Linked DNA regions of Homo sapiens: regions 1, 2 and 4 are each reported to be linked to region 3. Evidence: microRNA targets listed by miRTarBase, many of them from high-throughput screens and not tested one by one. Region 3 holds a microRNA gene; each other region holds the end of a gene's coding sequence. Distances are from middle to middle.
Evidence for each region. The annotated mature microRNA hsa-miR-1200 reads CUCCUGAGCCAUUCUGAGCCUC and lies in region 3 at 1,463-1,484, shown strand. An mRNA with a match to its seed (bases 2 to 7 or 8) in the 3' UTR can be bound and repressed. Matches are read on the target gene's strand: a 7mer-m8 pairs with bases 2 to 8, a 7mer-A1 pairs with bases 2 to 7 and ends in A, and an 8mer does both.

Region 1: the mRNA of LYPLA2 is a reported target of hsa-miR-1200. Seed matches in the 3' UTR shown: 7mer-m8 at 641-647.
Region 2: the mRNA of POLR1F is a reported target of hsa-miR-1200. Seed matches in the 3' UTR shown: 7mer-m8 at 1,032-1,038.
Region 4: the mRNA of SIGLEC8 is a reported target of hsa-miR-1200. Seed matches in the 3' UTR shown: 7mer-m8 at 1,001-1,007, 7mer-A1 at 1,108-1,114 and 8mer at 1,172-1,179.

The regions. Positions count from the first base shown.
Region 1 is chr1:23,794,401-23,797,491 of GRCh38, forward strand. LYPLA2 (lysophospholipase 2) reads left to right here. Exons shown (of 10, transcript NM_007260.3): 9 at 27-200; 10 at 282-1,139. The coding sequence ends at 332. It overlaps GALE (UDP-galactose-4-epimerase), which reads right to left. Exons shown (of 12, transcript NM_001008216.2): 7 at 2,634-2,747; 8 at 2,476-2,542; 9 at 2,297-2,382; 10 at 2,109-2,186; 11 at 1,751-1,865; 12 at 1,199-1,607. The coding sequence ends at 1,549. Among named protein-coding and RNA genes, the nearest start is that of LYPLA2, 4.8 kb to the left of the region's middle.
Region 2 is chr7:19,695,916-19,698,915 of GRCh38, reverse strand. It overlaps POLR1F (RNA polymerase I subunit F), which reads left to right. Exons shown (of 4, transcript NM_001002926.2): 4 at 189-3,000. The coding sequence ends at 600. Among named protein-coding and RNA genes, the nearest start is that of MIR3146, 8.0 kb to the left of the region's middle.
Region 3 is chr7:36,917,689-36,920,886 of GRCh38, reverse strand. MIR1200 (microRNA 1200) reads left to right here and starts at 1,455; the gene lies at 1,455-1,530. The region is part of intron 16 of ELMO1 (engulfment and cell motility 1); the gene reads left to right.
Region 4 is chr19:51,449,413-51,452,610 of GRCh38, reverse strand. SIGLEC8 (sialic acid binding Ig like lectin 8) reads left to right here. Exons shown (of 7, transcript NM_014442.3): 7 at 1-1,614. The coding sequence ends at 232. Among named protein-coding and RNA genes, the nearest start is that of SIGLEC8, 7.4 kb to the left of the region's middle.

The DNA of each region.
Region 1 (3,091 bases), not on the chromosome of region 3:
TGCCCTGAGTCCTGTCCGGCCTCCAGGCAGCTAATGGCAGTGCCAAGGACCTGGCCATACTCCAGTGCCATGGGGAGCTGGACCCCATGGTGCCCGTACGGTTTGGGGCCCTGACGGCTGAGAAGCTCCGGTCTGTTGTCACACCTGCCAGGGTCCAGTTCAAGACATACCCGGGTGTCATGCACAGCTCCTGTCCTCAGGTCAGTGGGGGGACCATTTCCCACTCCCACTTCTCTGCCTCCAGCCAGGTGCCTCTCGTGATCCCCTCTTAATCCCCTCAGGAGATGGCAGCTGTGAAGGAATTTCTTGAGAAGCTGCTGCCTCCTGTCTAACTAGTCGCTGGCCCCAGTGCAGTACCCCAGCTCATGGGGGACTCAGCAAGCAAGCGTGGCACCATCTTGGATCTGAGCCGGTCGAGCCCCTGTCCCCACCCTTCCTGACCTGTCCTTTTCCCACAGGCCTCTGGGGGCAGGTGGCAAGGCCTGGCCGGGCCTTCCTTCCTGGCCTTAGCCACCTGGCTCTGTCTGCAGCAGGGGCAGGCTGCTTTCTTATCCATTTCCCTGGAGGCGGGCCCCCCTGGCAGCAGTATTGGAGGGGCTACAGGCAGCTGGAGAAAGGGGCCCAGCCGCTGACCCACTCACTCAGGACCTCACTCACTAGCCCCGCTTTGGGCCCCCTCCTGTGACCTCAGGGTTTGGCCCATGGGGCCCCCCCAGGCCCCTGCCCCAACTGATTCTGCCCAGATAATCGTGTCTCCTGCCTCCACTCAGCTGCTTCTCAGTCATGAATGTGGCCATGGCCCCGGGGTCCCCTTGCTGCTGTGGGCTCCCTGTCCCTGGGCAGGAGTGCTGGTGAGGAGGTGGAGCCTTTTGAGGGGGGCCTTCCCTCAGCTGTTTCCCCACACTGGGGGGCTGGGCCCTGCCTCCCCGTTACCCTCCTTCCCTGCAGGCCTGGAGCCTGTAGGGCTGGACTGAGGTTCAGGTCTCCCCCCAGCTGTCTCACCCCCACTTTGTCCCCACTCTAGAGCAGGGAGGCAGTGGGGGAGGAGTTGTGTCTCGTCTTCTGTCTCCATGTGGTTTTTGGGTGTTTTTCTTGTTGTGTCCTGGATTCCGATAAAATTAAAGAAATTGCTTCCTCAACGCTCAGGCCTGGCTGATTCTATTCCAGGGGTGGATAGTGACCATCTGTGAGAACCTGCCCCAGTGTAAGAAAACTTGTTTTTATTTTTAAATACTTTGGAAAGCTCTTTCAGAGCAATATAAATGAGTGCCTGGGAGGAGGAGGTTTTGTGCCAGAGCCTTGCCCCCTCACTCACTCTTGGGGGTCCTGATGAACTCTTGGACCCTGTGGAAGATAAGAGTTAGAGACCTCGGCCTCCTGGTCAGTGGAGCCCTTGGCCTCATGCCTGGTGGGCTAAGCGGGCCCAGCTGGGGTTTGAGGTAGGGGAGGCCTTGGCTTGGCCCCAGCAGCTCCAGGGCCCTGAGTTCCTGCCAGAGGCTGGAGAGCAGGCAGCTGCTGCTTTTCCTGGTCCTTGGTAGGGGAGGGTCCTCAGGCTTGCGTGCCAAAGCCTGAAGGATTCTGCTTCTGCCAGCGCCAGAGATCCTCACCTGCAACACGGCGAGGTGTGTGCTCAGGGCCCACGGTGGAATGCAGAGCCTCCCCCACCCCACAGCCCGCCCTGGGTGGGCATGCCCAGATCTGATTTAGCCCCTCCCTGGCCCCTAACTGCAGGGGTCAGGCCAGCACTCACACATCCTGTCCAGCCCTAAGGCTGCTGTCCACCCCAGCTCCTCTTGGGCCAGGCTGGGGTTGGCGTAACAGGCTGCCACATCACCTTCCCGCCGTGCCACCACCTTGTACGGGATCTGCAAGACAGGAGGTAGTTGGAGCTTAGCTGAGCCGGCCCTGGCCCAGCTGCTGGCCAGGTCTTTAAGAAGCAGAAGTGCAGAGCAGCGGCTGGCCCGCAGGCACCGGGTGCTAGGCAGGCTGAGGAGACTGGGCAGTGCCAGGTACCCTCCAGAGAGGTGAGTGGGAAGGGCCAAAGCTGCTCTGTTGCTGAGAGCTGGGTGGGGTGAGGTGGGTGAGGTGGGTGGGGCGGGGGGGCCTACCTTCTTCCCAGAGGCCTTCTCCATAGCCTGGACCATCTGCAGCACTGAATAGCCTGTGCCCGTGCCCAGGTTGTAGATCTGGCCCACGGAGAACAGGGTTTATGGAGCGGGCTGGACTGACCACGCCTCTGGGCCGCTCTGCCTGGATCTGGTCCCTCCCCTCCCTCACTTCTCCCTTCTCTTCCTACCCGGCAGCCACACTGTTCTTTCAGCTTCCTTAAGGCTGCAATGTGGCCCTTGGCCAGATCCACGACATGGATGTAATCCCGGACACCTGCAGAGAAGGGAGTGTGTTGGATGGGGAGTCTGTTCCCCCTGACTCTCCTTCCTGGCTCCCACTCCTAGGTCCCCCTGGTCCTAGGCTCACCTGTGCCATCCTCTGTGTCATAGTCATTGCCAAAGACATTCAGGGCCTCCCGTCGCCCGATCGCCACCTGGAGGTGGAGATCAGGTCAGTTCGTCCCAGATCCCAGGCACCAGCTTTAACCCCAGGGCCACTCCTCTGTCCCTTCCCTTTTGCCTTACCTGGGAGACATAAGGCATGAGGTTGTTGGGTATGCCCTGGGGATCCTCACCAATGCAGCCAGAGGCATGGGCACCTGTGGGGTTGAAATAGCGCAGCAGCACTGCGTTCCAAGTCTGTGGGATGTGGGTCAGGTGGTGAGGCCAGAGGCACAGGCAGCGTGTCCCAGCTGAACCCAGAGCCCTCCTCATGCCTATTCTGTTTTTTTGAGATGGAGTCTCACTATGGCCCAGGCTGGAGTGTAGTGGCCTGATTTGGCTCACTTCAACCTCTGCCTTCCAGGTTCAAGCAATTCTTGTGCCTCAGCCTCCCGAATAGCTGGGACCACAGGCACACACCACCATGGCCGGCTAATGTTTGTATTTTTAGTAGAGATGGGGGTTTTACCATGTTGTCCAGGCTGGTCTTGAACTCCTGACCTCAGGTGATCTGCCCACCTGGGCCTCCCAAAGTGCTGAGA
Region 2 (3,000 bases), 17 Mb from region 3:
GCAGCCCATACATATTTTAGTGGGTTGAGGGATAACAGGATAGAATATTTGGAATTTATGCCATGGTTATGTGTCTTGTACTGGAGTCATTATTTAGAAAATCTTAGCCTGTTGGGATATCTTGATCTCAATTTGTTCTTTGTTTTTTGCTTATTGTTCTGTTAATTTTTTTAACTGTTAATTTATAGTTTACAATTCAAGCGCTCTGAAGTTTCTGAAGAAGTTACAGAAAATGGCACTGAGGAAGCTGCTAAAAAACCTAAAAAGAAGAAAAAGAAGAAAGACCCAGAGACATATGAAGTGGACAGTGGTACCACAAAGCTAGCAGATGATGCAGATGACACTCCAATGGAAGAGTCAGCCCTGCAGAATACTAATAATGCGAATGGCATCTGGGAGGAGGAGCCAAAGAAAAAGAAGAAGAAGAAAAAGCACCAGGAAGTTCAGGACCAGGACCCTGTTTTCCAAGGCAGTGACTCCAGTGGTTACCAAAGTGACCATAAAAAGAAAAAAAAGAAAAGAAAACACAGTGAAGAGGCCGAATTTACCCCACCTTTGAAATGCTCACCAAAAAGAAAAGGGAAAAGTAATTTTCTTTAGTGTATTTTAAACACGATTCAGTTTTTAAAAGATCGATCTACATACAATAGATGAATAAATGTTTTCAGTGATATGAAAAGGTTAAGTATGCCAGTAGTTTACAAAACAGAAAATACTTAACTAGGAGTAGGAGGCTTTATATGCTAAAAATGATAAAACTGACTGTAAATTAATTTGGGGAAAGCCAGTATTGTTAAAATACCATTTTATACAAAATAAAAAGCTGCTCTCACTGTCAGCTCTCATATTCTTCCAGGTTTTGCACTCTACATAAAATTATTTCTACAATGTCAAGACTAGCCAAAGGACTTTATAATACAATATTATATTACTAAAGAATGAGTTAAGTTTGAGATTTTGATGATTTGATTTTGTGTGTGTTTAATAGGCTTCACCTTATTACATGCTATTTTATTTTGCTTTTTTAAAAACTCAGGACATTAACTAATTTTAGGTTTTCCTTTATCATGGCTTTCTACAGTATTTCTATTGTTTAACATAAAATAGTTTGCCAAAGAAGTTTCTGAAGTCTTCACAGCTCTTAAAAGCCAGGCCAGTACTGACTGTGTGGTGGTAAATGCTATTCATTATTTTCTTTTCTTTCTTCCAAGTGCATGTGTGTCCTTGTCTTCTTAAGTCTGAGAGGTTGCTGGAAAGGACTGTTTTCTTGTACTTGTTCATTTGTGCCTCAGCCATTCTAGTTTTGTTGTGTGTTGGAGGACAGTCTAATGAAGACAGGATAAATGTGATTCTGACTAGTGGGAAATTTCAGATTACTTTTTAATGATTGGAATGGGCTATAAGATATTGTGCTGAAGAGAAAACAGTTGTTCTGTTCACTGCTTTCATTGAGAAAATGTGGAATGTCTCTTGACTAATTGACAAAGTGTAATGAAATGACAAGCTGGTTGAAGCTGGTAATCAATGCATGGCCATATTTATTCATTTTCCACACACTTGACCATCTACTTTGTATAACACATTCTGCTAAGGCCCAGGGATACAATGGCAAACAAGATAGATGTAGTTCCTTCCCTTGTGGCATGTCATAAGAGAAACAGATGTGCATATACACACAATAAATAAGAAAATTAATAATTGTATTAAGTGGTATGAAAAAAAGGGGGAGGATTGTTCACTCACTGTTACCTGTGTTAGTATCTGCAAATGCATGAATGGTTGAACTCCCATGTCAGCATTTTTGTTGCCATTTATTTAGTACCAGACATAGTGCTGGTCTCACAGCTTAATATTTGGTAATGAATAAATTCTGCTAGTGGTATATGTTGATCTGAACTTACAATGATGGGATATAGAATTGGCAGAGTGGCAGATGTTCACAATTGTCTACAAGTAGATGTGCTAGACAATGGAAGGATGCAGGCCAACCTCTTTGATTACAATTGAGATTCATGTGACTATTGAGCCCTGGAAATGTAGCTTGTCCAAATTGAGATGTGCTGTCAGTATAAAATACATACCAGATTTTAAAGATGTACCAAAAAATGTAAACTATCTCAATTTTTATATTGGTGAAATCAATATGTCTTGGTATAGTGGCTTAAATAAAACAATTTTAGCCTTTCTCAGTTTATTTTTCTGCAAAAAGATTAAAAATTGTACATGAAGCTCATGTTAACTTTCTTTTGGTCAGTGCTATTTTAAAGGAAGTATGAGTTGAAAAAAAATTGAAATAAACTATATCATATTACTAGGACTTAATATAGTGGCATACCCAGGAAATGCTTAGTAAGTGTTCCCTTCACATTTTAAAATTTGAGTATACAATCATGTTTGACAATATAGAAATTTAATTTTTAGTGAAACAATTCTAAACCCCTTTTCCATAGACACAAGAAAGATGGCAAATTTATGCTATTCCTGGAAAAATACATTGTGGCTTAGCAAATAAGCAAGTTCCCACGTTACTTTTGTTTTGCTTCAAGTAATACTTCTGCCAGTTGTGTTTTATGAATTAAACAGGGAACGGCATGCTGAACTTGAAACTAGATTTGTTCCTGCTTTTTTCACAATGTGAGTAGTTTTGAAAAGTCAGATCTGGCCATTTGTCTTTCCTAGAATAGCATAACTTTGTTCATTGTTTTTTTTGTTTGTCTTTCTGACACAGAAAGACTGATGATGGTGTCCACTATGTATTCTTCAAAACATTTGGCACATGCTGCACTAACCTAGTCTATCTTTTCTATCTTGGAATTTGCTCATACAAACCCTATAGCCTAGACTAGATCCCTTACCCTCTCTCCAGTTCCTATCATTCACCCATTTCACTGTGCAAGACACCTCACTAGTCACCAGTGATACAGAAATGACTTTTAAGCAGTTTCTGCTCTTAAGGGCTTACCGTTTTGTCTATAAGATACACAAGTATAAATGACAAGT
Region 3 (3,198 bases):
CAGACCATAGATGAAGACCTTGACACTGCTCATGGAGACCTATAAAAAGGATTTGGGGTTCATAGAGAAGAGAGTGACTTGTGGGAGAGTTAAGAAGGACTTTTCAAGCAAGACGGCATTTCAGGAGACACAAGGTGGTCAGTCTAACAGTAGAAAATGAAATCAGCAGTAGAAAACAACATGGAAAATTCTGTTCTTAAATTACCATGTTGGAGAGGGATTTAATATGGCTATGTTTTATGCCAGATTTTTTTAAAAGCCTTTCATGCATAAAACTATAGTGATCTATTTAGATTCATTAAAATATGTGCACATATATATGCATGAATTTCATTATGTGGATATGTAAATTAATGTATTGGGTGAGAGATTATGTTTTAGAATATAAACCAAAAACCATGTTGTGATTAACTTTAAAGAACCATCTAGTTTTGGACATTGTGGCAGTTGTTTTTAATATCCACAAATCAGCTGAATTAGGAAACATAAACTATATGTTTGGACTTCATATTTAGAGCTATATGAGGTCAGCCTCTTCCTCCAGAGGCACTGCCAGATGATAGTTGCTTGCATGGGGCAACAGTCCAATGAAACAATTAATCCAAATCTCATTCAGAGATGAGAAGCAACTTATTTCATTCACTCATTCATTCATTTTCACATACTCATTGACTTCTATTCAGCAAATATTTTTCAGGTAGTTCATAAGCCCTGTAGTTGACTGTGTGGTGGCCTGGCCAAGGGGCATATTAGCCAGAGTAGAAGAGGCAAGAGCTGGGTCTTAGTGGCCAGGCTGAAGGGATAAAGTGTGAGGTTGGCCCTTGCAGAAGAAAGTGATTGGACATCATTCCAGAGTAGAGTGCCCAAAGGAAAGAACCAAAGCATCCCTGATCCAGGCCACTGTTGATGTCAAAAGGGGTGGGGCTTTTGGCATCTCATAGGGCGTTCCCAGTCGTGACACATTATAGTTCTGAATGGTTCACATAATTAAGGCATTGATTCGTTCCTTAAATGAATCAGAGGAAGGGAGATGGAAATGATTAGACAGGTTGTTTTATTTGCAGTCACATTAGCAATAGGGTTCAGGAAGGGCTCCCATTCTGATGGGAGCTTTGGATTGCAGAAACTCTTCCCCGTGAGCCCAGCATCGATCACAGAGCTTGGAAATACAAACTAGAGTTTCATGAGCAATGGGGAATCAGAGCTTCTTTTAGGATACTTGATACTGAGTGTGCAGCAACACACTTTGATTGGCAGCAGCCTCCCTTCCACAGTTGCCAGGCCTACTCTGTTCTAGGCACTGAGTGTACATTATCTAATTATCATAGCAACCCAGCAAGGTTGATGCCATTATCCCATTTTACAGATGAAGAGACTTAGCCCATAAGTGAGAGAACCAGGTTTCAAATCCAGAGTTCTGTGACCCCAAAGCCCACATTCTTCCTAGTTTACTATGCTACTTCTCCTGAGCCATTCTGAGCCTCAATCACTTGCCAGAGAGATTGGTTCAGGAATTTGTCAGGGATAGCCTGAAGTCCCAAAGTCTTCAGCCAGCATCTGAGCAGTGTTAGAAAAGGCTGAGACTCACACGATGCTATATGCTGTGGGAAATGTAATAGACATGAACGATTATCCTAGTCACTATTAACCAAATGCTGGATAACATGGAGCACATAGTGACATTCAACAGAGTTACATTCTCTGCCTTCTAGGATCTTGCAACCCAAGGTGCATATTTACTTGCTTGAATATTGAGCTGTGAGAAGAAAAGTTGCTACGTTTGTGCAAGTTCTATTTATTATGGATGCTAAATTCCTATAAGTTAGCTGAACCATCCCTAGAATAAAGTACTTTATTTTAGCCCAAGTGCCAACTGACTGACTGACTGACTGAATGAATGAATGAATGAATGAAGGCATGCTTGCTTGCTCTTATAGATTAACTCTCTTGCTATGGGTAAACCAAAAGAAAAAAAATATTTTTCCTTACCCCTTAAAGTGAGTCTACTTTGTTTTGTGGGAGGTAGCAATTTATAGACCTGTCTACACATTATTTTCTAAAACTCAAGTATTTTGGAAGAGCAGATGGGGTACCATACTGTATACACTAATCATATATTTTGAAATGTATTTCTTTTTGAGCAGTTTGGTGACGCTTTATTTAGCAAAAGCCCTTGAAAGTTTCAAAAGCAACAATCCAAAGAACATGAGTGGCTGAGAGCACAGCGGACAGACAGACCCTCCAGCACAAGGCTAATGCTTTTCAAAATGTACTGTGGACCCTGGCCCTGGCCCCTATTCCTCCTGCCCTTAGAGATGATGATACACATTGTCACTGGGGGAGGGAACGAGTGGATTGGGCCTGATTATCTGAATTTTCTGTGAATCCCCTGGGTGACTGTGATATGCACCCAGGGTGGAGAACTAGCCTTCTACACTCATATCTGAGTGCTACTCTTCTTACCTCATTCTCTTGAGACTCATATTTTCACTTATAAAATTATTAGAGAAGCAAAAGAAAACCCCATCCCTTTTACATTTTCTGAGAGCCACAGGGGGAGCAAATAGGTGTTGAGCACCTCCTACATTGCCAGAAGTTTGACTTATAGATCTGGTTTAATCTGTACAAGAACTCAACAATGTTTAAAGAATTAATTGGCCCTCAGATATGGAGTTGAGTTATGCATACTGCTCAGTTCATAGCTTATTGTCACCCTAAGGCCATGCAAGACCCTCCTCTTATTTTGTTATTGTTCCTCTTCACCCCCCATTCCCTACACCCATTTCCTTCCCTCCTCAGAGAACCACCTAATATGCTAGAACTAAAATGAATGTCTTTACAAAATTATATATTATTTTTGTGTGTGTTTGTTTTAATTTACATAAATGATAAATCTCTGTAATATAGACTATATAGAAAGTAAGAATGCTTATTTTTTCACTCAGTATTATGTTTTCAGATATATCTATGTTGTATAAACTTCCCACATTTGCATAATATTTCATTGTCTGCATTTATTCCATTTTGTTTATATCTTCCCCAGTTGATAGACACTCAGCTCCCTGCTACCACAGAGAATTCTGCAGCTAACATCCTTATTTGTGACCCTTGGGGACCTTTGTGAGAGTTATATCTGGGATACGTGTCCAGGAGTTGGATCCTGGGGTCCAGATGTGATGTATGCCTCTTTAATTTCAG
Region 4 (3,198 bases), not on the chromosome of region 3:
AGATGGCAACCCCCTGAAGAAGCCTCCCCCAGCTGTTGCCCCCTCGTCAGGGGAGGAAGGAGAGCTCCATTATGCAACCCTCAGCTTCCATAAAGTGAAGCCTCAGGACCCGCAGGGACAGGAGGCCACTGACAGTGAATACTCGGAGATCAAGATCCACAAGCGAGAAACTGCAGAGACTCAGGCCTGTTTGAGGAATCACAACCCCTCCAGCAAAGAAGTCAGAGGCTGATTCTCATAGAACAAGAACCCTCTAGAGCCCCATGCTATGCAGTAGGTCACCAGGGCTCCCTCCTCCTGTCTAACCAAAACTTGGACCAATGTCTCCCCTTTCCCCGGCTACCAGGGACCCATCCCTGCCTCTAGCTTCTACTACCCACCATTCTCCTCTCGACCTCTCTGAGGTTGACTATTTTAGATTCCACATAGAGATGAGGTCATGTGGTACTTGCCTCTCTGTGTGTGGCTCATTTTACACAAAAAAATATCCCCTAGGTTCATCCATGTTCTCTCAAATGACAGAATCAAGCACTGAATATTTTTTTTTCTTTGAGAGATGGAGTTTCGCTCTGTTGCCCAGGCTGGAGTGCAGTGGTTCAATCTCTGCTCACTGCAACCTCCACCTCCTGGGTTCAAACGATTCTCCTGCCTCAGCTTCCCAAGTAGCTGGTACTACAGGCGTGTGTCACCACGCCCAGCTAATTTTTGTATTTTTTAGTAGAGACGGGGTTTCACTATAAGTGGGCCAGGCTAGTCTCAAACTCCTGACCTCAAGTGATCTGCCTGCCTTGGCCTCCCAAAGTGCTGGGATTTCAGGCATGAGCCACCGCACCCAGCTTGCATTGAATATTTTCAAGGAGCTAAAAGAAGATTTTAAATGGTCTCACAAAAACAGATAAATATTTGCACAGATGGGTGTGCTAATCATTGTGCCTTGATGGTTCCACGATGTATCCGGGTGTGGAAATCTCACTGGGTCTCTCTCAAGGCCACTCGGCTACTCAGGACAGGGCTGGAATTTAAAGCCTGTCCGATTCTGAGGTCTCTTCTCTCATCTAGCACTGAGTCAAGCAATCAGCAGGCTGGGCACCCCTTAGCCATAAGTTTTCAGGAAATAAATTCCTTGAGGGCATTGACTTTTACAAAAGAGGGAGCAGCAATGGCCTAGAGTCTCAGGAACAAGACAGGTGCACTGAGGAGATGAAGGCCGGGACCCCCTGCCCAACCTGTATGGCGGGTCTGTACTTATTTTGTTTACCCCCAATTTAAAACGTTTTTTTTTATTGCAGGTTGTTTGTTTGATATGGTTTGGCTGTGTCCCCACCCAAATCTTATCTAGAATTGTAATCAGAATTATAATCCCCATGTGTTGGGGGAGGGACCTGGTGGGAGGTGATAGGATCATGGGGGTGGTTCCCCCATGCTGTTCTGATAGTGAGTGAGTTATCACGAGATCTGATGGTTTTGTAAGTGGTGGTTTCCCCTGCTCTTCTCTCTTGCCTGCCACCATGTAAGATGTGCCTGGTTCCCCTTCCGCCATGATTGTAAGTTTCCTGAGGCCTCCCCCGCCATGTGGAACTGTGAGTCAATTACACCTCTTTCATTTATAAATTACTCAGTCTCAGGTATTTCTTAATAGCAGTGTGAAAACAGGCTAACACATTGTTCTTTGAAATTTAAAAATAGCGTTAGCTTTTCAGTTGAATCACGCAGCTCTTACATGTGCCATGCCATGAGTGTTGCCAAACATGCACCCCTGTGTAACCAGCTTCTCAATCAAGGATAGAGAAATTTTCCTTCACTCCAGAAAGATCCTGGTGTCCTTCCCAGTCAATCCCTAGCCCTGAGAGCCACCACTTTCTGATTCCTATCACCAGATATTATTTTCCATGTCCCTTGAACTTCATATAATTGGCATCACCCAATGTGTATTCTTGTGTCTTTTGTTTTTCACTCAGTGTTGCGTTGTTGTTGTTGTTGTTGTTGTTGTTGTTGAAGACAGAGTCTCACTCTGTCTCCCAGGCTGGAGTGCAGTGGCGTGATCTCGGCTCACTGCAGCCTCCACCTCCCGAGTTCAAGTGATTCTCCTGCCTCAGCCTCCTGAGTAGCTGGAACTACAGGCGCACGCCACCACACCCAGCTAATTTTTGTATTTTTAGTAGAGACATGGTTTCACCATGTTGGCCAGGATAGTCTCGATCTCCTGACCTTGTGATCCACCCACCTCGGCCTCCCAAAGTGCTGGGATTACAGGCATGAGCCACCGCACCCGGCCGCATTGCATGTTTTGAGATTCATCCATGCTGTGTGTGTCAGTATCTTTTCCTCTTTATTGCTGAGTAGGACACCATTGCATTGTATGAGCAAATCACAATTCATTCCCTTATTTTTTCCTATTCATTGATACTGTTTTGGTTGTGGCAATTATCAAGACAGCTGCTGTGAACATATTTGTATGATAGTGTATTGAGATGTTTCCATTTCTCTCTAGGATTTGGGGCAGGGCTGAGATAGGAACAATGAGGTTGGATTCCCATGCTGGCCTTTCGAGAGTATCCAGGATGTCCTGTGGAGATGACATTCAGCAGCTCAGGAGGGACAGAGGGAGGGGCTGGAGATGGACACAGGAAACATCAGAGGGTCTCATCATCCTGATAATGGAGTTGTTGTGGGTTGAATCTTGTCCCCCAGAGAGATATGTTCAAGTCCTAACTCCCAGTATCTATGTCTGTGGCTTTATTTGGAAATAGTCTTTGCAGATGTAGCCAAGCTAATATTAGGAGGTCATACTGTATGAGGTGGGCCCTAAGTGCCATGACTGGTGTCCTAATGCAATAAGGGAAATTGAACACAAGACACACATAGGGAGGAAGGCCACGTGACAGCGGAGGCAGAGGTTGGGGTTTTGCTGCCACAGCCCCCAGAAGCTAGAAGACGCCAGGAAGAGTCTTCCCAGCACTTTCCGAGGGAGACAGCCCAATGACACCATGACTTGGGACATTTGGCCTTCATAACGTCAAAGAATAAATTTCTGTGGCTTTAAGTCACCAAGTTTGTGGGAATTTGATATGGAAGCCCTAAGAAGCCAACACACCTGACACCAACACACCTGCTGGCACCTGCTATGCACTGGGAACTGGACCCATCCTGTCTCTGCAGGCCTCAGAGTGACTCTCAAGAGGGCTGGCTCTACCCAGG